Linked DNA regions of Homo sapiens. The protein of the gene in region 3 purifies or fractionates together with the protein of the main gene of each other region. This does not show direct contact. Each region holds a gene or a part of one and is shown on either strand. Other genes may lie near its edges. The genes, in order: PDHA1, IFT46, DGKE and PAICS.

Region 1 (4,118 bases), on a different chromosome or scaffold from region 3:
TACATCAGATGTCAACATTAAAACACTGGGGAATTTCACATGAAAATCCAGACTTCCGCCTTCTCTTAGACATGGAAAACAGGAAACATTACCCCTGATTTCCACATGGCACCAACTGGCTGGAACCAAGTCATGGCATTCCTCTGGGTAGGGCATGCTGGTGCCAGTTCAGCATGAGTCCCTGTCACCATTTTCTGTTTTGTATACCTAGCCTTCTTCACTCATTTATTCTACCTGGCTGGCCCTTGTAGGTATTTGACTCTAACCCTTGACCTAAGCCCACAAAACAAAAAACAAACTAATCCTTTCTCTCCAAATTATATACAGTACAGGCGATCATAGTGCCAGAAAGTTTTAAAATAGTAAAACTCTAAGAACAGGTACAGAAAACTGGCAATGTTATGTGTGAATGAATTCTTTAGCCTAAGCTTCATAGCAGGTTTTGGCATTCTACTTTTTAATTCTAAAATACTGGCTTCAGCCAGGCACAGTGGCTCACGCCTGTAATCCTAGCACCTTGGGAGGCCAAGGTGGGCGGACCACTTGAGCCCAGAAGTTTGAGACTAGCCTGGGCAACATAGTGAAACCCCGTATCTCCAAAAAATACAAAAATTAGCTGGGTGTGTTGGTGTGCACCTGTGGTCCCACATACTCGGGAGGCTGAGGTGGGAGGATTGCTTGAGCCCAGTGGACAGAGGCTGCAGTGAGCCAAGATCACACTGTACTCTAACCAGAGGCTGCAGTGAGCCAAGATCACCACTGTACTCTAACCTGGGCGACAGAGAGAGACTGTCTCAAAAAAATAAATAAATAAAAGAAAATTACATTACCAGCCTCAAACTCTTCTGATACATATGGCAGGGTAAAGCCCAATAAGTACAAGCCATACTTCAGTACCTAAATAACACAGTTCCACCACAAACCTACCACTCACCTGACCATCACACAAGTGACAGAAACCACGAATAATTTTCTGTTTATACAGCTGATCTGCTTTCAACTCCATTCGGCGTACAGTCTGCATCATCCTGTAGTATTTGAGCCCATCCTCCCTGGTGAGCACTGTTGTGACAGGAGGGCCTTCTTCCAGCCGGTGAAGGTCACATTTCTGAAATGGAATAAGGTAGTTATTATCCTCCACATACTACATTGCAAACACTGTTGACCACTCTAAGATCTAACTCCATTGCAAATAATATTGAACTTGAAAAACTGCAAAGGAGCACATCAGTAATGCTTCATATCGCCTCTGTTCCTTAAATCCATAAACCTCACTGTGCAATGAGATGGGGCTTGGGGGAAGGAAATCTTTCTAAGATGATTTTCACTGAAAGCCCCTAGAAGCCAACTGAGTTATAGGTTGAAAGAACCTTCAAAGAAACAACTAAGACTCTTCTTATTCAAATATTTCACTGAATTACATTCCAAACTTTTGAATAAGCTTTTATTTTTATTTTCATTTTCTAGCTCCTCCCCCTTCCCCCCACAGAACAACAGCAAGCTGCTAATAATAAATTCTAGTTTTCGTGAAGCTTCTCTGAACTTCTGATCCTGGAACATTTAGAAGAAAATGATGACTAAGCATGAACATCAAAATGTTCTATTCTAAAGGTAAAACTGTATATCAGAGTGTACCTGTGAAAAAATTATTAACAAAGTAAAACACCTCTTACCTTAATTTCAAATGTAGCATCATTTGCAAAATTACGGGATGCTACCAGCACTCTGCTTGCCTTAAAAGACAAAAATATACAAACAAATCAGTACTTTTTAATTGTCAGCTATTTTGGAAAGTATAATAATCAGTTATCAGAATGAAGTTATGGAAATTTAATAAGCCCCAACATATTCATAGGCTTCTCTTCCACCCTGTGCACTGTGTTTGCATCTTCCTTGGCCTCCAAAATGAATCCATGCTTTGGCCAATGAAACAGGATTATCCCGCATCTGAAGGCAAGCAGCGCAAAGAGGGGCAAAAAACAAACCCATCCTTTGTTTTCAAAGAAATTATAGTGAGAATATAATGAAATTAGTGGCTAAAGAGACTAGATCATCTGTGAGCTGTGTCTGTTTATGCCATTCTTTTGTTTGTTTGTTTTGAGACGGAGTTTTGCTTTTATCACCCAGGCTGGAGTGCAGTGGTGCGATCTCGGCTCACTGCAACCTCCGCTTCCCGGGTTCAAGTGATTTCTCCTGTCTCAGTCTCCCGAGTAGCTGGGATTACAGGTGCCCACCACCACGCCCGGCTAATTTTTATATTTTTAGTAGAGATGGGGTTTCACCATGTTGGCCAGGCTGGTCTCCAACTCCTGACCTCAGGTGATCCACCTGCCTTGGCCTCCCAAAGTACTGGGATTGCAGGCATGAGCCACTGCGTCTGGCCTTTTCATGCCATTCTTAGTCATAACCAGATACTGTTCATTTTGAGCAAGCCAAAATTATACTTCAAATAAAACTATGATTTAATCTCCACTCTAGGCAAACTTGACTCTTCTATCAAATTGGATCTGTAAGAAAAAATATTTTAAATTGATTGAAGTATGAGATAAATACTTTAGGGAGACAAGACAAAAGAAAAGATACTTAGCACTCTCTGACTTAAACACAATGGGCTTGAGCCAGCTGTTTTATAATTTATAATTTGAACAGCCTAAATCTTGGACAGGCTCCTCCTGAAGCCCCAGTAGAAATGTTCTCTGAAACACTGTTCTCTTGATGTTTGGGTGGCTGTCACTGTTTGGAGGTAAAAAGCTTGGAGGCGGGGGGTGAGAAATGATTCCTTTCCAGTTTTACAACTGAGCAAACCTGCTCACAGCAAAAGTATTCTATGTAATGGCTAAGGTTTAGGTTAGACCACAAAATTTATCCAGTAGTATTATCATACTATTTTAGCTCCCTTCTGCCACATTCTCACACACTGACGTGTAAACCAACATGATTTCTCCATAAAAAGCACATCTGATGTGTTCATACCTTACCTAATCCAGCACTGGACTGATCTTGGTGAGAAGAGTTAAGACTGATCTGCCAAGTATACCCTGGAGTGTACAAGCCAATAGGCAGAAAGCTAATTACGTATATCTTCACCCCTCAATAGACCATTATTGGACAAAGCCAACAAACACAGACAATGACAGTGCTGGAGGAAAACAACTGAAATACTAGGAATCAGTGTTTCAGTTAACTTACAGGCAGAGACAGTCCACTAATGTATCTCAGAAAAAGTGAAGGAAATTTAGGAATTTGGGAAGAAGTAAAGCTGAGAGAAGGTGAAACAGCAAATCAATGGTTATATTTAGCAATCAAACAGATGTGTTATTCTTGGCAGTTAATAAATATTTTGTGGGGCCAGAAATTTATTGTATTGTGAAATAAATTTCCAAATACAACTACAGAAACTGCAGTTTTTGGAAGGCAGGAGTCCAAACCAGCCAGGCGACAGTAACAGAGAAAAGGTAACTTCTTTCTCAATCCTAGAGTTGAAACAATGAGGCAGGATAATGCTATACAATAAAGAGCAAGAAGGGGCCCAGTGCTGTGGCATGCGCCTGTAATCTTGCGCCTGCAAAGATTAGGACTGCCAGAAAGCTACTTAGATACTTTCTCCCATGGCTTCATTACTGTGTATCTCAAAAATAAGAACCACTGATATGAGTGAAAGGAACAAAGTTAAAGAAGCTAAAAGTCCTATCAGAAGTGTGTGTGTATCATTTCTGAGTGAGAGCTTGTTGAAAAGATAAGTTTACCATTCATTTTCTCTGGAGAGCCATAAAAAGATTCTCTGTTAAATGGGATTCCTCTCTGACAGAGACCACGAACAACCCACTCAAATTTTAAAAAATAAAAACTAGGCCGGGCATGATGGCTCACACCTATAATCCCCAGCACTTTGGGAGGCCAGGGTGGGAGGACCACTTGAAGCCAGGAGTTCAAAGCCAGCCTGGGCAACATGAGACTCTCATCTCTACAAAAATAAATATTAAAAAATTAGTCAGGTATGGTGGCACACACCTGAGGCTACAGTGAGCTATGACTGTGCCACTGCATTCCAGCCTAAAAAAAAAAATTAATTAAAAAAAAGTAAAACTTTAACTTCCTAAATACATAGGAACCATTCA
Region 2 (5,273 bases), on a different chromosome or scaffold from region 3:
CACCACACCCAGCTAATTTTTTGTATTCTTAGTAGAGACGGGGTTTCACCATGTTGGCCCGGATGGCCTCGATCTCCTGACCTTGTGATCCACCCACCTCGGCCTCCCAAAGTGTTGGGATTACAGGCGTGAGCCACCGCACCAAGCCTATGCCACGTTTTTTAATTCATTCATTTGTTAATGGACACTCGGGTTGTTTTCATATTTTGGCTATTGTGAATAACACTGCTATGAACAGAGGTGTACAAGTGTCCATTTGAGTCCCTGTTTTCAATTCTTTGGGACCTAGCCACCTAGGTTTTTGACTTGAGCGTGTTTATGCTCTTGACAGCTGTGGATATTATAATTTGTTTTTAATTTGGGCTAATTTAGTAAATAAAAAAAGGGTTTAATTTGCATTTATTTGATATAGAAATCATTTATCATGTTTTCATTCCAGTTAATGCCTTACATCTAATTATACTTTTATTTTAATTTAATTTTTTATTTATAGAGACAGAGTTTTGCTCTGTCACCCAGGCTGGAGTGCGGTAGCATGATCACGGTTCACTGCAGCCTCGACCTCCTGGGCTCATGCAGTCCTCCTGCTTCAGAACCCCCGGTAGCTGGGACTACCAGCCCATGCCCCCATGTCCAGCTAATTTTTTTTTTTTTTGAGATGGAGTCTTGCTCTGTCGCCCAGGCTGGAGTGCAATGGCGTGATCTCGGCCCACTGCAACCTCAACCTCCCAGGTTCAAGCGATTCTCCTGCCTCAGCCTCCTGAGTAGCTGGGATTATAGGAGTGTGCCACCACACCTGGCTAATTTTTTTGTATTTTTAGTAGAGACGGGGTTTCACCATGTTGGCCAGGCTGGTCTCGAACTCCTGACCTCAGGTGATCCACCCGCCTCAGCCTCCCAAAGTGCTGGGATTACAGGCAGGAGCCACTGTGCCCGGCCTAATTTTTGTATTTTTTGTAGAGACAGGGTTTCACCGTGTTGCCCAGGCTGGTCTTGAACTCCTAGGCTCAAGCAATCTGCCTGCCTCCGCCTCTTAGAGTGCTGGGATTACAGGTGTGAGCCACTGCGCCTGTCATTAATTATCCTTTTAATTGTTCAGAATATTTAAAAATTGCTCTTATCTTTGCATACTGATTCGGATTCAAACTTGTGACTATTATTTGCCAGGCCCTGGGTCAGTTCCTTGCACATAAATTTTTTCACTTGATCCTTATAAGAGGCCTGGGTTAGAAATATTAGTGACCCCATTTAGAGGTGGGAATACTGAGACTCAAAGAGGTTAAATCTTTTTTTTTTCTGTCCATATGTTTATCGTCTTTATCTGAAAAATCTTTATAGAAAATTGTTTGGTTTAGCTCTCAGCAGCCTGCTCCTGAGCTCTGAGGGAGCTTGCCTTCTTTTAAGCTACCTGATGTTTCTTCTGAGCAAGGGACATTTTGGGACAGTTCCACCTATTCTTTTTAACTTCTTTCTTGGGCCTCTTTTCATAGACTGGATTCTCTCATATAGCAGCATGAGCTTTCTTATACATCTCTTCCATCATGTCTGGAGTTACGCTCTTCTTTATGCATTGAGAGAACTGGTTCTTGTAAGCATCTTCATCTTCTTCTGTTAAGTAGTGCATGTAATCTGCAACATTCTGGCCCATGATGTGCTTCTGGTGTACTTCTGCATTAAATTCCTTGCTTTCAGAATCATAACTAGGGAATCGTTTGGTACTGTGAGGGACAGACAAGCCTCCATCCACAGCTCCCTTCAGGGTGCCAAAAACTTTATTGCCAGTGGTAGTTCTGGCAAGACCTGTATCCAAATAGCAGGTAAAGGCACCTGGCTGACCATCAATGCTTTCCACATTGTATTCATTGCCAGTCTCCTCCACTTGGCCTTCATAGATCTTGTCCATGCCAAACCTATTGGGAAGCCTGCGGGCCAGCAGCAGGCCAGTACAATAAGTTGCAGCATAATTTGTCAGGCCAACCTTCACACCACATTTTGGCAGTTTGTGTGCATATGCTGCGCAGACTATATCCCCCTCTATACGGGCATAAGCAGTCTGACAAATGATATCTCTGTTTGTTACACGAACTATCATCTTATATTTGGGTGTGTTGTATTTATTTTTATCCTGTATCACCAAGCATTTCTGAGGATAGTAACCAGTTTTACCCTCTCGTCGTCTTCTAAATTTCACTTGGTATCTCTTAAAGTAGGCTTTATTCTTAACAACTTTAATAAACCCCATTCTGCGGAACAGAGACCCGCGTTTGCGGCTCGACAGAGACCTGCCGGCCCAGCAGTGCTAGGGGGTGAAAAGGCAAAATCATTTTAAGTAATTTTTCTTCAAACCCACTCTTAGTATGAATTCAGCACTCTGTACTTTACTAGTTATTAACCTAATTTGACTAATGTGTAAACTAAGGGCAGAGTGTATATTTTTCTCTTTCTTTTCTTTTCCCCCTCCCCTCCCCTCCCCTCCCCTCCCCTCCCTTCCCCTCCCATTCCGTTTCTGACAGGCTCTCACTCTGTTGCCCGGGCTGGAGTGCAGCAGCATGAACACTGGACACTGCTCACTGCAGCCTCGAACTCCTGGGTTTAAGCAGACCTCCTGCGTCAGCCTCCCGAGTAGCTGGGACCACAGGCGCATGGCATCACACCCAGCTAATTTTTTTTCTTTTTTTTTTTTTGTAGATGGGATCTTGCCATATTGTCCAGTCTAGGCTCAAACTCCTGGGCTCAAGTGATCCTCCTGCCTCCCCTTCCCAAAGTGTTGGGATTATAGGCATGAGCCACTGCCCCTGGCCAGAGTTTATATTATTTATGTAATGGCAGATAATTTGAATAGTATAATGTCTAACCCAATGCCTTAAGCACAGTAATGTTTAGTAAATATATCTTGAATTGAACTGGCAGAGCCATGACTAGAATTCAGTCTCCTGTCTCTTTAGCCAGATGTTCCAATAAACCTTGTTTTATAAAATGGTTAGAGCATAAAATATTAAAAACTAAAAAATACTTGTTTTTAAAAATCATTTTAACAATAATCTAAAGGAAAAACTTTTTTTCTAAGGACTTCCTCGTTCTGCCCATCTTCCTAACAAGGCTATGGCTGATAACAGCAGTGATGAGTGTGAAGAGGAAAATAACAAGGTACAGTAAAACTCACAGCTTCTTGTAGAATTTCTGCTTTGGGTTTTTAGTAGTTAGAGATGACACCAGTTCAACGGTAAACATTTCTTGAACACTCACCTCCAGGGGTTAGGGACCTTTGAGCTCATGGAGGAAAATCAGTTACAAAGAGCCTTGAGATTTTGACCCTTCTTCAGGAATAAAGCCTACTACTACAATTGACTTTGGTGAGGAATTTCACATAATGTAGGCCAGTGTTTCACAAACTTTCCTGATCATAATACTCAACTGAGGTACTTATTTTTAAATATACGGATTCCCAGTCCCAGCCCAGAATCTCAAAAGTAAAAGCCTGGGAATTTATATTTTTTAGGAAGCAGTCCAGGTAATTTTATGCTAAAGCGAGTTTGAAATTATCAGTCTAGGCATTTTTTCATTGTCAATACTTGTGATACTGCCAGTATTTTGTGAAGGAGATTTTAATTTTGAGGTCTTAAGACCCAGATGTTGGCTGCTGTTATTCTGTGTACCTAGAGAATCACCCTGCTTCTGAAAGAAACATGGCAAGAGGCCCACCTCTCTAGAAACATATAGGACCTTAGAGTTGCACATATGATTTCTTAAAAACCGTTTATGTTGGCCGGGTGTGGTGGCGCACTCCTGTAATCCCAGCACTTTGGGAGGCCGAGGCGGGCGGATCACCTGAGGTCAGGAGTTTGAGACCAGACTGTCCAACATGGCGAAACCCCATCTCTAATAAAAATACAAAAAATTAGCTGGGCGTGGTGGCGGGTGCCTGTAATCCCAGCTACTTGGGAGGCCTCCCAAGGTGCTGGGATTACAGGCACAAGCCACTGTGCCCAGCCTGTTTTTTTTGTTTGTTTTTTTTTTTTGAGACAGAGTCTTGCTCTTTCACCCAGGCTGGAGTGCAGTGATCTTGACTCACTGCAACCTCTGCCTCTTGGGTTCAAGCAATTCTCATGCCTCAGCCTCCCGAGTAGCTGGGGGATCACAGGCCTGCACCAACTCGCCTGGCTAATTTTTGTATTTTTAGTAGAGATGGGGTTTTGCCATGTTGGCCACACTGGTCTTGAACTCCTGACCTCAGGTGATCCTCCTGCCTTGGCCTTCCAAAGTGCTGGGATTACAGGTGTGAGCCACTGTACCCAGCCTGATGGCTGCATTTTAATGGTTTTTGTTTTTGTTTTGAGACAGAGTCATCTCGCTCTGTTGCCTAAGCTGGAGTGTAGTGGCATGACCTCAGCTCGCTGCAACCTCCGCCTCCAGGGTTCAAGCAATTCTCCTGCCTCAGCCTCCTGAGTAGCTGGGATTACAGGCGTGCGCCACCACGCCTGGCTAATTTTTGTATTTTTGGTAGAGATGGGGTTTCACCATGTTGGTCAGGCTGGTCTCGAACTCCTGACCACATGATCCGCCTGCTTCGGTCTCCCAAAGTGCTGGGATTACAGGCATGAGCCACCACCCCGGGCTGACAATATTCTTAAAAGTTCCCTCTGCCAAAACTGCTTCCTATGTGACTAAGGATAATTTTGGCAAATCTTGAATTGAGAAAGAATGCTCTAGAAAGTTCTTATCAGTCATATACTAATAAGGCATAGTCACTGAATAAATTCTGCAACTGTGTTTCATTATCTGCCATGCATATTACAGCTTAGTTAGAATATACTTTATGTATAATAAATTTGTTATTCTTAGAGCAAAATGTGACTAAAAGCAGTTTTTGGTGTCCTGTAACGTGTCACAATTTTGTGTGCCAATAGCTGCTTTACCATAAAAACAAATTAATTTTAAACAACTGGAATCAAACGTGTTAACCTCAGTATAAGCCATACGGTATATAGAAACCAAGTTTTGAAAACCTACTTTTAAAGGGGGCCAATTGGTCATCCTTCAGGTCCTAAGGGAGGGCATGCCACAGGCTCCAGGCCACAGAGGCAAAGACATGGACCCTGTTCCACCTGCCCCTGCAAGTCTCAAGTGCCACCAGACCCCTTCTCATGTACTTGAGAGGGTGGGATGGTACAGAGAGAGCCAGAAGCACAGAAAGGTAGGTTATAATGTCAAGAACAAAAGAGCTGTTTATCTTGAGAGAGAATGTGTAGTCATTTTATGTAATTTATGGGGTA
Region 3 (7,291 bases):
ACATGCCACAGTACATTTTTCAGATCGTTACTGATAAATCAGAAAGCTTTATGAAAATCCAGATGGAAGGAAACACACAGTTCTGCCATGCATATTAAGATGCATTCACTCTCCTGCCCTAATAATTATCATATAACCTTATGGTAGACGATAGTCAATTAGTTGCCAACCAATACTTAAAAATTAGATTTCATATACTCTAAACTTCTGTCTTTTCTAGAAAAATAAATTGTTTACACTAGGCCTGCTTCCCAGGAATCATGTGCTCCAGTTTACCGAAGTCTCTACAACTCTTACCTTCGTTGCTTGCCCAGCTCCTGTAAGCACTTGCAACCCGTAGGTGGGCATTAATTCCCATTCTTACAGAGAAAGAAAATTTGAGGCTCAGGAAGAACAAGTGTTAAGTTACAGTAGTAGAGGCTGGGTTTCCATTCAGGTATTTCAAATAAGTGATACATTTTTCCATACTCTACCAACTGAAAATAAGGTGAATTCACCTTTGATCCCACTTACTGCTCTACTCTGCCAGGAGCCAGTTTATATGCGTGAGAATGAATGTTTCTCCTAACACACGTGTATGATTCTGTGCTCTTAGGCTACAAAAGCCATGCAATATGAATTTTTTATTCTTTCTGTCTAAAAGTATGTGATCAGAACTTGCCACATATATGTTTGCCCTGCTGTAGACCAAGAACCACTTTTTGGGACACTAAGTCAAAGCTGCTTATTGTATCTCATGGTTGTGTCAAAAAACTACACAGTATCATACTTACGTGCTGCACTTTTAATTTTATTAAAAAAGAAGCAAGTATCTTCAACATACCAAATGCTTTCACATTTCTGCCTGCAGGCACTGACCACAAAAATACAGACCCAACACAACAAAAGCAATTAACACAAGATAATTAAGTGGTAGTTACAAGTGGTGGGCAGGGGAAAGTGCAAGAGGCCAGCTGGCTGAGCAAGTGGAGTCATCACATGTGTCCTCAACATTGTGGGTTTAGGGATCCAGTGCAATCAGTTCACTTCTAAGAGGACTGGGGTTGAGGACTCGAGCTAGGCTGCTCTAAACTTGTACAAACAGAATTACAAATCAGAGTGCCAATTTATCTGTAGGGTTTGTTTAAGCAGTTCAGATCTGAAAGACTGCTGGCAGAGCCCTGAACTGGACTGAGAACAAACGTTTTTATGAGCCATCATCATCCACCTCCACAAAGTGCCTGCCTTACTCTAGGGTTTTTCTCAGCCAAATCTACTCATCTGATCAGGATGCCCTCTTGCCTGGACAATGTCAGAGGAACAAGGAAAACAACTGAGCTTTCCAGCTCTTCCTTTTCAACATTCCATGTTAGTCACCAAAAAGTAACACATAATGGAAATTCTCTAGATTACAGCTTATTTCCTGTTTAGTGCATTCTGTGTTGATGTCGTCCTTTAACAGTGAGGTAGCTCAGGGCATCCTTAGAGAGACTGAAGTGTTCTTGGTCTGATATCTGATACCAGCAACACATTTCTTTCTTTTTTTTTTTTTTTGAGATGGAGTCTCACTCTTTGGCCCAGGCCCCACTGCAGTGGCACTATCTCGGCTCGCTGCAAGCTCCGCCTCCCTGCAAGCTCTGCCTCCCGGGTTCACGCCATTCTCCTGCCTCAGCCTCCCGAGTAGCTGGGACTACAGGTGCCCGCCACCATGCCCGGCTAAATTTTTGGATTTTTAGTAGAGGCGGGGTGTCACCGTGTTAGCCAGGATAGTCTCGATCTCCTGACCTCGTGATCCACCTGCCTCAGCCTCCCAAAGTGCTGGGATTACAGGCGTGAGCCACCACGCCCGGCCTTTTTTTTTTTGAGATGGAGTCTTGCTCTGTTGCCCAGGCTGGAGTGCAGTCATGTGATCTCCGCTCACTGCAAGCTCTGCCGCCTGGGTTCGAGCAATTCTCGTGCCTCAGCCTCCTGATTAGCTGGGATTAAAGGCATGTGCCAATGTACCTGGCTAATTTTTTTTGTATTTTTAGTAGAGACGGCGTTTCACCATGTTGACCAGGCTTGTCTCAAACTCCTGACCTCAGGTGATACGCCTCCCTTAGCCCCCCAAGTGCTGGGATTACAGGTGTGAGCCACCGTGCCCAGCCTCAGCAGCACATTTCTATTTATAGTTTCTAGGTGATTTATTTTCTGCAGACTTTCTTGCATATGGTTAAGCCCAATCATTTCATTTAAGTTTTATAAACGTCTGTATTAGAGGATGGCATTTTAAAATTCTTTCCCCAGAACCCTGGAATGTACCTTTCTGGGCTATGCAAGCCTCATGCACTGACTACACAGGGCCACATGGGTAAATATATATGTATTGATGTGTATTTACATATCAAAAATTAAATAGACTATATGCTTAAATTAGAAACACAAAGAACAAAGGCTAAGTTCACTGCTTTACTATTCAATAAAATAGCTTTAAAAACTGTGAAACAGCCAAGTGGCCACATTCTAAACAGCGACGGAGACCTCCAAAATATTCTGTCCACCAAAAAAACACGAAGTTTCTGAATATGTAAAAATTAGTAGAAAATCAATTAGGTGACAAAGTCATTATAGTAGTGGCTTTCAAACCCTTTATAAAAAATAGCAGAATCATTTTAAATGTGGAATTATTTTATCTACTGAGATCTGAAGCAGCACTCAGTATACACAAGTGTGGCTGCATTGACTGCAGTGAGAAGGCAGGCGCCTCCATGGCTCACTGCCCCTTGGAGGCGCACTGCACTAACTCCTGAAGCAACTCCTTGTCCCCCAACACTGCATGGGTCACAGTCCAAAAACTGATTCCACATATGAATCATACCAATTTTTATGTAACAGAGTTCAGACAAATATATCAATTTGGGTATGATACAAATAAGTTTTTCATAGAGTTCTTTTAGAAAAGTGATTTTGAGGGAAGAGGACAGCGGAGTAGAAGAAAAACAATTTTAAGAACATACAATTAATTCAATTTTTCGGCATGGTATCCCACCTAGCAAAAGCCCTAGGTGAATACATGAGGTTCAGACCAGAAGCTTTCAAATTTCAGTATGCTTAAGAATCGCCTGAGGCGCTTGTTAATAAAAACAGAGATTTCTATGTTGCATCTCCAGAGACAGGGAATCATTAAGTTAAGGGTTGGGCTCAGGAATCCATACTTTCAACAGCCTGCCCAGGCATTCTGATGCTGCAGATAGCCTGCAGCGCGTACTCTGAAGAACAAGAGAAAGGCTTCAAGGGAAAAATTGAAAAAGACAGGGGGACACTGTTTAAAAGCAAAACCCAAACCACCTTTTCTGTCTTGTTGCTGAGAATGAATTCAGATTGGGATAAACAACCTTTTCTTTCTTTTTAAATATCTAGATATTTTAAATATATCTACTTATATTCCACTGTCCTCAACTGGGTAGAAATATTAAAAAAATTATCAATATAAAATGCTGGTTCTTGCTTCAATATTATCATTTTGAAGGAAAACCACACAAAACCATTACCCATTCTAATGACTTTTTTGGCCAAATTATGTATTTGGGTCCACATTAATCATTAAATTAGTATAACCTTTAAAGTTTTCAAGTTAGTGCAAATTTAAAATTCAATAAATATATTAAATACAATTTTACTTTATATTACAAATGTAAATTATTTTTCTTTTGACATGCTGGTAGTATTCATTTTTACAACGCAAACTGACTTTACAATTTCTGAGTCACAGTATATTTTATAACTCTAAGCAAATGTATTTCACAAAGCAAACACTATATGTTTTTGACATACTCTAAAAAAATAAAAATAAATAATTTTGATTATAAAATTTGTATAAACTTAGCTACATTAGGGGTTCACAGCTAATTGTTGCAGAAAACCTAAAACACACCTAAATCATGTAACTTTACTAGCAGACAACTTGTATTTTAAAACACAAGTCAGTTTGATTTCTATTAAACATGACGAAACACTGAAAATTATCATCATCTGCCTAAGGGATCTTTAAGAGCTGCCAGGTATTCAGTATTTAAGCCACTACGTTTATAGGAATTAGGAATGTATTGGGATAGTAAAAAGATTAGAGAAATCTGGAAACAGACATGGAGATATGATTTACTTCATGTATTTCTTCCTGAGAATGTAGAAGTTATTTTTTTAAATATCAAGACAATTTAAAATGGAACAGGAAAATCTTATGGCAATTTTTTTTGGTAAAGTGTAGAATCCCTGGTAATATAAACAATCACTACCCTAATATGTAACTTGCAAACATGAAGTCTTATAAATTGTACTTAAACAAGGCACATGCCTATACACTTATTTGAAATGCTGGGTAAATGTGCCCAAAAAGTAAGTGAATTTTGCAAAAACAAGATAATGATACATTTTATGAGATGGTATTCTGAAATAGCTTCCCTAAATGAAGTCTAAATAAGTGAATAAGCCAGCAGAAAAACTTCATGACAGACCAGTAGTGATGCAAAAACCTTACTAGATTACAATAACCAAAAAATCAACTTATTTAGATAAATGAGGGCATTTTACATAAGCCTGTTCTAAATACAGTGTAATATTATGGTTGGTATTAAAATTATAATTTTTAATTGTAGTTTTCACAATTAAAAAGCTGTATTAGTTATTGTGATTATTTTCGTTCCAACATCCTAAATTGATTTGCTTCTACTACAATTAGCACTACGAATTATATAACAGGTAAACTATAACCTACAGCAAAGTGGATTTAACAGTGTATTTATAAAATGTGATGTCTTTAACAATTTTGATCATGAATGAAAGGATAAACTTCATAATACTCAGAACATGATTGGCCCATTAAAAAAAAAAAAAACAAAACTCTGCCATCCTCACTGCCATGGTTACTTACCATGAAAGGTATATAAAGAAGCTGAAAACAGATCTGCTCACAAAGTTTCTCAAGACTAGAATTTAAGATCACCTGAGGAGATCTGCAAGAGGTTAATTTAGCAAAATAGAGTATTTCATAAAATGTACTGACTACTGTATACATTACTAAGTTGCTCTTTGAAAACATGGTCTGGGCCTGAGGTGAGGCAAACTTAGGTTTATGGCAATTCATGGATGACAGATTCATAATAGACCCTCAAAGATAGCTAATGGTATTTTGGGGGATACATTCTGATCTTTCAGAGATTAATGTCATGAAAGACCACAAAGCCTGGGCCATGTGTCAGAAAAACACCAGGCTGGATGCCCTCTGGGTCAGCCGACCTGTGGGTCACGACCCTTGGGCTGGTCAACAGCAGCGAACAAGCACCCTCTAATGGGAACCATGAAACTAGCCCTTCAGTAAGTTTGTGGCAATTGAGGGGCAAATAAAACAATGAAACAAAGCTTTCAGTTATCCAAAAGTAGTTCCCTAGTGCTTTTCATGCCCTCCTTCATTTTTCAATACAATGAGGAATATTTGTGAAGAATAAGAATATCTAGATTTCTGTCAGGAGAATTAAATTAGAATTTTAATTAATAGACTAAATTTCTATCTGATTGTGACTAGCAGAATTTATGTGATCAATTTAACTTATTAAATAAAGCTACAGAACGTAAACACTAAACACAGGTACCATACCACAAGGTAAATAATAAATAATTTAAAAATATATCTCTCTCATTTTAAAATAAATATGATATAAACATTTTAGCAAAGATTTCTGTCCACTTACCTCCCTAAGGGGAAATTCTGTTAAAAGACTACTGTATTTCAAAATACTACAAGACCACCAAATTTTTAAAACTTATCAGTCAGCCTTGAGCTTTTTCTAAGCAATTAATCTCACCGTTGTCTCCTTTAAGCACGTTTTTTGAAGTGTTGACACTGTCTTTTAATAAAAAGAGCGGCTGATAAACAGTTCAGCTCAGAACCTATAACTTACAATCCCAAGTGCTCTGAATCTTATTTCTTACCAATTCACTTATCTGTTTCTCTTTTGGCTACACTGGTGTTATAAAAAAGATCCTGAATTGCAGCTCAAATGGTTACCTACAGAATTAAACAACATTTACGTGTCTGAATAAGTTCCTAAAATAAAAATTGTAATACAAATTTTAAGTATGATCTTTTTTTACTATTCTCCTTTTGGGGGTTCCTAGAAATCAATACATACACTTGGTTTGGGTTGTAGAAAATCTTAAGGGGCATGCTGCAGGAGGATGCTCACAATTAACCATGCTGGTTTGACAGTAATCATTTCCTTTCAAAAAAGCAGGTTAATTTGATCTTTCCACCCACACCTTGTTGGAGATATAATGTGTCCATCCATTGTGTGTCCATCATATGCATGGTTCAAAAATAAGACATGAGACAGCACATACTTCAGAGTGAGTCCCACTCTCAAAACAGTCATAACAAATTTTCACTCTCATGTAAGTTTTTGTGACTTTTTGTAAGTTAATACTATTCATTTGAAGTATTTTGCTGAAAAAAGAACAAACATTTGTAAATAACTGAAGGCTGGCTGGTTTGGGGATGCTATTTACAAAAATGTATACCCATTATACTACTAGTGAAATTAAGACTGAATAGCTGATAGAGAATTTCTATTAATACTTTTGGATGAACATGTATCTACTTGCGTGAGGATTCTATGCAAAGTTTTCACTCCCTCATCCATCTATTCAGTCGCCTTTATATCTTCTTGATCCGAAGTACTAGAGATGTCATCATCTGTTTGTTCTCCAGAGAAATATAACATCATTGCATGTGTCTTGTGAGTTATGGTGACAGTGCAGGGCCCTTGGGCCCAAGGCTCCCCATCCACCTGCATTGGCATCATGGAGCACTTCAAAATCAGCTGATATTAGGGAACAAATAATGTTTAAAAGTCAGTCCCCCCAAATTTAGAAAGGTCTTCCTTAATAATACCATCCACAATCCCTTAACCCTTATGCATTTCATTTTTAGAAAATATTAATCTGAATATGTTTTTATTCATTGATTAAGGAATTCTTTTTTCAAGTGAACGTTTTATCTCATGGATCTTGAGCCATGTTTCTGTTTCTTCCTCATCCCACTCTAGCCGCTAGTGTACAGTGACCAGCTGCATGAGCCATAAACCACTGTTTAAAGAAAAGTATAGCATGTATATTTTACATATCAACAGCTTAGAATTGGATTGGGACAAATTAGCCTGTTACAGCTATATTTCACCTACCCTCACTGTATGTGCCTGTCCTATTCGAAAAGGATTAGCCAGTTTTACTTGAATCTGAGCACAGTGGAAAGACCCATATACTCCAACGACTTCCAGCA
Region 4 (8,333 bases), on a different chromosome or scaffold from region 3:
CAGTCCACTGGACCAGGTTGGAGGGCTCAAAGACTTAATATACTTGACACATATCAAGACTGGATATATACAGATATGAGAAAAGTTAGGGATTTTAGTAATAAAGCAAATCTCCTACTGAAACAATATTGACCCTCATAAACTGCAGAATATCAGATCATATCTTGGACTATGATGAACGAACCACAACACTGTTACGTGATCCAGTTCCATCAGCCAAAAGGGGACTTCCTTATGTTATTATCTTTTATCCCCAATTTTTTATTTTGAGACCGAGTCTCACTCTGTTGCCCAGTTTGGAATCCATTGGTACAATCTTGACTCACCTCTGCCTCCCAGGTTCAAGCGATTCTCCTACCTCAGCCTCTGAGTAGCTGGGATTACAGATGCTCACCACCATGCCTAGGTAATTTTTGTATTTTTAGTAGAGATGGGGTTTCACCATATTGGCCAGGCAGGTCTTGAACTCCTGACCTCCAGAGATCTGCCCACTTCAGCCTCCCAAAGTGCTGGGATGACAGGCATGAGCCACTGCACCCAGCCTTATCCCCAATATTTAAGAATAAAATTGTATTCTCTCTACAGAAGTAACATGATCACATTTACTTTAAAAAAAAAAATCAATACCATGAATTCTTGGGAAAAAAATATCTAAACTTGATTTTATTACAGATCTCACCATCAGTTTATAGAAAATATAGGGAATGGAAGAGCATGTTTACCACCACCTAGAAATGTAAGAAGCCAAATCCAAAATATAGAAAATTCTATTGAAAAAATGAAAGGGAAAAAGGGAGGATGAATTGTTATATATTTAAAAAATCAAGAGATTATCAACTAAATGCAATATAAGGACTGTGGTGGATCTGAACAAACAGATGAGACAATTAGAAAACTTGGACCCCAACTAAAAATTATACCTTAAGAAACTACCACTAGTCTTTCTTAGGTGTGAATATGGTATTGAAACTGTGTCCCCAAGAGTTAAAAGATACCAACAACTAACAGAAATTCCTGAGTTTGCAGAATGGTAGATTAAACAATATGGCCAACTAGAGTCTGCACAGAACCAGCTTACTGATGTCACAGGCCCAATTTCCACCACAATTCATTCTAACTCCCCCAAATTTACACACGTGATCCATGAAATAACATGAAGAGATAACTGCACATGCCCAAGGACTTTCTAGACCTCCCCTTTCCTTCCACCAATCACCTACTAATCCCAGAATCTATCCCCTAAACCTTTTCTAATAAAATTGCTGCCTTAAAGCCAGCACAGATTTGAGCTGGACTCATGTCTCCTTGTTGGTCAACTTGAAAGAGGAAGCCTTTCTTTCTCAAAAACCTGGTGGCTTAGATAGTACTGGTTTCTAATGCATCAGATAGTGGGCTCCTTTTGTTCTATAACAATATCATGATTATGATTTAAAAACTAGAGCCTGTATTACTTAAACATATACTTAAGTATAAATTACTATAACGTCTAAGATCTGCTTTAAAATAATCCAGCAGGAGATGGCTGTAGACACAACAAGATGTTAATTGCTGAAGCTAGGTCATGGGTACATGAGATTTTATTATGCTATTCTGTCTACTGTTGTGCATCTGTTAAATGCTTGTAATGAACAGTTTTTAAAAATTCAATGTATCTTACCACTGGGTAGTCGAAGAGAAGACCACACATCCTGAACTCCCCAGTCTGGTGTGAGGGGAGGACAGCTGATAACTGGATATGCAGTGTTCCCAGACATCACTGGTCCCAAACCATTACTTCTGCCTGCCACTGCCACAAATACAGTAGGAATGCCATCCCCTAGGGAAATGACAAGAGTATAATTATGCTAAACATTCAAAACAGATTTAAAGACAGGGTTTTTTTTTTTTTTTGGTTTAAGGCCTATATGTTTTAATTACTTGAGGTCCTTGAATAGTCTTCTCTGAAAAAACATAAAAGATACTATTATTACACATATATTCAAAACATAAGGTTACTCTGCCACTTACTATAAGTCAAGTAATAAAGTAGCTGGAATCGGTTTGGTTGTTTTTGAGATCTACATTATAAAGGGGATAGCAGGGTGTCAGTGAGGGAATAGCTCATAGGCCTCTTCTATTGCTGTATAGGCTGGCCAAAGTGAAGAATGACACCATCTGAACAGGTGTCTTTCTTGACTGGGTGGTCCCTCAACTGGTGCAGGGAGAACCAGTTAATATAAACTAGGGGTTTAGGGACACGTCTTCAAACAAGAGTTGAAGGAAAGTTTAATTAATATAGTGTCCCCCAAATTTTAAGGCCCTTTGATACATTTTTTAACATAATCTCTTAAGCAATTCATTCTTTGATAAATTTATAAATTATCCTCCTGTTTCCTAAAGCAGAGATTTGTTAACCTAGAATCCAAAATTGTATGTATTTGCAATTTTCTGAAAAGAGTTCTAGAATTCATTAGCTATCAAAGGAGTCTGAGTTCCCCCAACCTCCCACTCCCCCAAAATTAGTAACTACACTTCCATAGCAACAACCTGTACACGAAATAATCAACATTTTTTTCCAGTTGAGAAACATTTGGTTGTAAACCCAGGGCTCCATTATTTTAGATCACTGCTATACCATTATTTTTTATGTACTATATTCTGAAACTGTTCTTTAATTTCCTATCTGACTGCCTCCCAGGAAAGGGTGGCAACTAAAGATTCCCGGGAGAACCGGCTATTTTAACCTCCCGCCTCCTGTAACTGTGGGGGCCTATTTTCTATTGGAGTATATTAGAAGCAATGCTCCAGGGGCTTCTTACCAGGTAAGGATGCCAGAGGTTCTCATCATTCTAGTCTTTGTTTTCTTTTCATACTTGCATTTTTAATTATTTCTCCCTGCTCCTTTCTTTTCTAAGCTTCTAGAATACCTTAAGCTCTTTGGAGGTGAGTATTAAGAAAGCCTAGCGGCCAGGCGTGGTGGCTCATGCCTGTAATCCCAGCACTTTGGGAGGCCAAGGCAGGCGGATCATGAGATCAGGTCAAGACCATCCTGGCTAACACAGTGAAACCCCGTCTCTATTAAAAATACAAAAAATTAGCCGGGCATGGTGGTGGGCGCCTGTAGTCCCAGCTACTTGGGAGGCTGAGGCAGGAGAATGGTGTGAACCCGGGAGGTGGAGCTTGCAGTGAGCTGAGATGGCGCCACTGTACTCCAGCCTGGGCGACAGAGTGAGACTCCATCTCAAAAAAAAAGAAAGCCTAGTATATCATGTGTTTTTCCCTTAGAAAACTGACAAAGCTCTTTTTTCAGCATTATTAGTCTAAAGTGTGTAATTACTTTTAGCAAAATCAGAAATACCTGAAATGTCCATATTACTTGTGGTTTACCTTCATACTCAGCTTTAATCCTCAGAGTTTCATCTGGTCCTTTATGCGCAGATGTTACTCGAAGTTCACATGGAATGCCAAAATTTCCACAGGCCTTCTTGATTTTTTCACAGTGACCAAGATCAGAAGTAGAGCCCATCAACACTACAACCCTGCACTGACTTTCTGATTTCAAAAGCAACTGAAGAAAAAATACGTGGATATGAAAAGAACATAAAAACAAAAATGAATAAATGAGCTAGAGTTTGTAGTAAAATTATATCTGGGCCCAATATTTTCTTTCTTAACAGATCAAATTTAAGACAGAGACAAACAACAAAAAGACAGGATTTATTTTTAAAAATCTCAATATATAAAGGAAAGTGGTCTTCATCAAGACCTAAAGAATTCAATTTTTATCAGACAAATTATTTAAAATAAACAGTAAAGATACTCAAAATCTTTTAATTTTCAGGAAATTATAATACAAAATATTTCATCCTAAGACCTTTAGTGCACTTTGTTTAATGGAAGCTTTAAGGTATGATTAGCCAAATCAGAAGTCATGTTCTAAGTCTTTGTAAGTTAATTGCTTGTAACTCAAAATATATATTCCTATAAGAATAATGTTCTCAAATGTGATTATGACCCTTGCATAATCACAAACCCCATTCAACTCCCAGAATTATAGTAATACCATAAAACTTAAAGGAATATTTAAAGTCACACAGAGTTCCATCCATCCCATGCTAATGGAACTCTGACTAGCAGTGCAGGTGAGTAGGAAATATAAGGTTTCTCCTACGGGGTAGGGAGGAGACAGATTCCAGGTTTCCCCAACAGGATCTGGGAGGTATGTATTGGCCAGCTTAACAGCACGGAGTTCCAGTATCCTAGTAAGGATAGCCCAGCTGATACATTTCCTAAAAGTGTTCCTCACTTTCAAAGTCACTGAAGAGCTGGGCGTGGTGGCTCACGCCTGTAATCCCGGCACTTTGGGAGGCCGAGGCAGGGGGATCACGAGGTCAGGAGATCAAGACCATCCTGGCTAACACGGTGAAACCCCGTCTCTACTAAAAATACAAAAAATTAGCTGGGCGTGGTGGCCAGCGCCTGTAGTCCCAGCTACTCGGGAGGCTGAGCTAGGAGAATGGCGTGAACCCGGGAGGCGGAGCTTGCAGTGAGCTGAGATGGCGCCACTGCACTCCAGCCTGGGCGACAGAGCAAGACTCCGTCTCAAAAAAAACAACAACAAAAAACAAAGTCACTGAAAAGAAAAGCACTATACTCTCCCATTTTTTTTTCTTTTGAAACAAGATTTTCTTAGAAGAAAAACACATAATACATACAGTTTTACTATAGAAGGTTTACCTCTACTCTCTCTGCAACCCACTCAAAGTTTTTCTTTACCATTTGGAGCCCTTCAGGAGTTACTTCTTTGAGGTCCCGATAAGACTAGAAAATAAGATAGAAAGTTTAGAAAACAAGTATCTCTTGCTACCTGAAACTATTTGGTTTCTGAGTTTTGGGGAGGGATTATGAAGAGTTTGTATAGCAAGGGATACTTCTGAAAATGCATCTTTTCACTTCCTGAATTAAACTAACAAAGTTCCATAGTAAAGTATACTTTTATTTTCACTTAAGGTTAAGTGTTTTCTGTACTAGCAACTACAATTAACTGCCTTGAGAATTTTTATATATTAAGTATAGAAAGGGTCTTGCTCTAATTTTGTTTTCTGTTATTTTTTATTTTAAATACATGTGCAGAATGTGCAGGTTTGTTACATAGGTATACATGTGCCATGGTAGTTTGCTGCACCCATCAACCTGTCATCTAGGTTTTAAGCCCCATATGCATTAGGTATTTCTCCTAATGCTCTCCCTCCCCTTGCTCCCCACCCTGCAACAGGCCCCGGTGTGTGTTGTTCCCCTCCCTGTGTCCATGTGTTTTCAGTGTTCAACTCCCACTTATGAGTGAGAACATGTGGTGTTTGGTTTTCCGTTCCTGTGTTAGTTTGCTGAGGATGATGGCTTCTAGCTGAATCCATTTCCCTGCAAAGGACATGATCTCATTCTTTTTCTTTCTTTTTTTTTTTTTGGAGACAGAGTCTCGCTCTGTCAACCAGGTTGGAGTGCAGTGGCACAATCTCGGCTCACTGCAACCTCCACCTCCCGGGTTCAAACAATTCTCTGCCTCAGCCTTCCGAGAAGCTGGGATTACAGGTGCCCACCACCATGCCTGGCTAATTTTTTTTTTTTTTTTTTTTTGAGACAAGGTTTCACTATCTTGGCCTGGTCTTGAACTCCTGACCTTGTCATCCACCTGCCTTGGCCTCCCAAAGTGCTGGGATTATAGGTGTGAGCCACCGCGCCTGGCCAATCTCATTCTTTTTTATGGCTGCATAGTATTCCATGGTGTGTGTATATCACATTTTCTTTATCCAGTCTAACACTGATGGGCATTTGGGTTGGTTCCATGTCTTTGCTATTGTAAATAGTGCTGCTCCTGTGCACGTGTCTTTACAGTAGAATGATTTATATTCCTTTGGGTATATACCCAGTAATGGGATTGCTGGGTCAAATGGTATTTCTGGTTCTAGATCCTTGAGGAATCACCACACTGTCTTCCACAATGGCTGAACTAATTTGCATTCCCACCAACAGTGTAAAAGCGTTCCTATTTCTTCATAGCCTCTCCAGCATCTGTTGTTTCCTGACTTTTTTAAAACAGCCATTCTGACTGGTGTGAGATGGTATCTCATTGTGGTTTAGGTTTGCATTTCTCTAATGATCAGTGATGATGAGCTTTTTTTCATGTTTGTTGGCTGCATAAATGTCTTCTTTTGAGAAGTGTCTGTTGTTTTATATAGGAGCAGAAATGTGGCCTGGTAACATGCAGGAGACTTGGAATAGAGTCCCAGATCTGTCCCTGACTCTAGTAATTGTGAAGATACCCATCCTCTTAAGACCCTTAGTTTTCATTTAGCCAAACAAAGATAATACTTGCTGTTACTGTTGTGACAATGTTATTAAGATAACAGATGAGAAATTTGCTTTATAAATGTAAAGTATTATTCCTATTATTCTTCTATTAGGATACCAGAGACATTTATCTTTAAAAATAAACAGCAATCCACAAAACAGGTTCATATCATTAGGAACAATAATTTGCTTTTTCCCCTCATCTCTCCTTTCTCCTCTATCTCAGCTTGATCTCAAAAAGGATAAAAAAACCTGAAGCATTATCTACCTGTTTGTCTTTCTGTTGGCTTCGATCTCCTGATGGCCAGAGTCTCCAGGAATCATTGTCAATAACATCAGCAAGAACAATTTCTTTGGTGGTTACATCAACACCAAATTCAATCTGGAAACAGCATGTCAACAAAGTTTTCAAAAACTATTTTATGAAAGCATCTCTCAACTATAACCTTTACTTTCAAATCCTGTTGTTTTATCTGTACTTGTTTTATCTGTACCTTCATATCAACCAGTGTACAATTCTGGGGCAACCAGGATTTCTCCAGTATTTCAAATATAGCCTGTGTAGCATGACTCATGATATCCACTTCAGTCTGGCCTATAAGAAGTCCAGCAAAGCAAAATTTTGCAGCAATCAGCTGTTCCTCAGACCACTGTGGGTCATTATTGGCATCATCCTGTGAATAAAGTATAGTAGTACAATTAACTTCAATCTAAAATTTTTAAACTTTTCAGAAAAACCAACATCCTTTTCACCTTGAGCATGAACTCCTTAGAAATTTTTAGCCACAGCCGGGCATGGTGGCTCATGCCTGTAATCCCAGCACTTTAGGGGGCTGAGGTGGGCGGATCACAAGATCAGGAGTTCGAGACCAGCCTGGCCAACACAGTGAAACCCTGTCTACTAAAATTACAAAAAATTAGCTGGGTGTGGTGGTGTGCACCTGTAATCCCAGCTACTTGGGAGGCTGAGGCAGGAGAATCATTTAAACCCGGGAGGTGGAGGTTGCAGTGAGCTGAGAGAGCGCCACTGCACTCTAGCCTAAGCAACAGAGGGAGACTCCATCTCAAAAAAAAAAAAAAAAAAGAAAAGAAATTTTGATCCAGGTGCAGTGGCTCACACTGTAGTCCCAGTAATTTAGGAGGCTGAAGCAGGAGGATCGCTTGAGCCTAGGAGTTCAAGAGCAGCCTGGGCAACAAAATGAGACATCTAAAGAAATTTTTTGTTTACGATACTCCTTAATTCAAAGCAATTATTACTCCTCTTTTTTTTCCTAGTTAGCTCCTGCAAGCAGAAAAAACTATTACTCTTAATTTGTTTACTCTCAATAGCACTTTAAAATTCAAAGTATTTAGGTGAGTAACTTATTCTAGGTCACAAAGTATTTCAAAGAATTTAACCTCTATAAACCAATTTAAACAGAATTTAAGTTTGTGATTTTTGTTTTTCCTTAATAACAGTCATCAGACATGACAGGAAGGCCAAAGCACATTTTAATCAATCAAATCTTTCCAAAACCACCGTTCTCATAACCTCCCAACCTCACTTTTTATTAGAATTTATACAGCACTATAATTTTTTAGGGACATTATTTGATAATTCAAGAGACCTCAGACAAAGAGGTAAGTGAAAAAAATGAAATAATTTCATTTTATTCTCAGCAGTGTCCCAACTTTACATGACAATATCTTTATAAATTCTTGATCTATATAATCATAATACACACAAGTTACATAACTCATTGATTAAAAAGCAAGACTGATATTGCTTCCCAAGCAGATCTATGCTTAACAGCATAAATCAAGATGGTTAAAAGCAGTAAAGCCTACAAAATTCATAACCACTGATTCTTACAACCTTTATTTATATATTTTCACTTACAAGAGACATTGTTAGTATAGTTTTCCTGTATTAGAATATAAAAAGATTTCAACTAAATTTTAAAAAAATTAACTAAATGTTACTTTTCTCTTCTTCCTGTTAGTCATCTTGGTTCAAAGGTAAGATT

What was found.
Region 1: the proteins of DGKE (region 3) and PDHA1 purify together in Homo sapiens (affinity purification with mass spectrometry; one large-scale study listed by BioGRID and IntAct). This does not show direct contact.
Region 2: the proteins of DGKE (region 3) and IFT46 purify together in Homo sapiens (affinity purification with mass spectrometry; one large-scale study listed by BioGRID and IntAct). This does not show direct contact.
Region 4: the proteins of DGKE (region 3) and PAICS purify together in Homo sapiens (affinity purification with mass spectrometry; one large-scale study listed by BioGRID and IntAct). This does not show direct contact.

What each region holds. Positions count from the first base shown.
Region 1 is NC_000023.11:19,346,927-19,351,044, reverse strand, and holds part of PDHA1 (pyruvate dehydrogenase E1 component subunit alpha, somatic form, mitochondrial isoform 1 precursor), read right to left. Parts: intron 1,734-4,118; coding exon 1,674-1,733; intron 1,109-1,673; coding exon 935-1,108; intron 1-934. UniProt on the Homo sapiens protein: The pyruvate dehydrogenase complex catalyzes the overall conversion of pyruvate to acetyl-CoA and CO(2), and thereby links the glycolytic pathway to the tricarboxylic cycle.
Region 2 is NC_000011.10:118,557,659-118,562,931, reverse strand, and holds part of IFT46 (intraflagellar transport protein 46 homolog), read left to right. Parts: intron 1-1,293; exon of another isoform or gene 1,294-2,315; intron 2,316-3,067; 5' UTR 3,068-3,102; coding exon 3,103-3,147; intron 3,148-5,041; coding exon of another isoform or gene 5,042-5,194; intron 5,195-5,273. UniProt on the Homo sapiens protein: Forms part of a complex involved in intraflagellar transport (IFT), the bi-directional movement of particles required for the assembly, maintenance and functioning of primary cilia. May play a role in chondrocyte maturation and skeletogenesis.
Region 3 is NC_000017.11:56,862,154-56,869,444, reverse strand, and holds part of DGKE (diacylglycerol kinase epsilon), read right to left. Parts: coding exon 7,194-7,291; intron 7,099-7,193; coding exon of another isoform or gene 7,045-7,098; exon of another isoform or gene 6,950-7,044; intron 6,834-6,949; coding exon 6,654-6,833; 3' UTR 1-6,653. UniProt on the Homo sapiens protein: Membrane-bound diacylglycerol kinase that converts diacylglycerol/DAG into phosphatidic acid/phosphatidate/PA and regulates the respective levels of these two bioactive lipids.
Region 4 is NC_000004.12:56,447,086-56,455,418, reverse strand, and holds part of PAICS (bifunctional phosphoribosylaminoimidazole carboxylase/phosphoribosylaminoimidazole succinocarboxamide synthetase), read right to left. Parts: intron 7,002-8,333; coding exon 6,822-7,001; intron 6,710-6,821; coding exon 6,596-6,709; intron 4,801-6,595; coding exon 4,717-4,800; intron 3,548-4,716; coding exon 3,367-3,547; intron 1,817-3,366; coding exon 1,658-1,816; intron 1-1,657. UniProt on the Homo sapiens protein: Bifunctional phosphoribosylaminoimidazole carboxylase and phosphoribosylaminoimidazole succinocarboxamide synthetase catalyzing two reactions of the de novo purine biosynthetic pathway.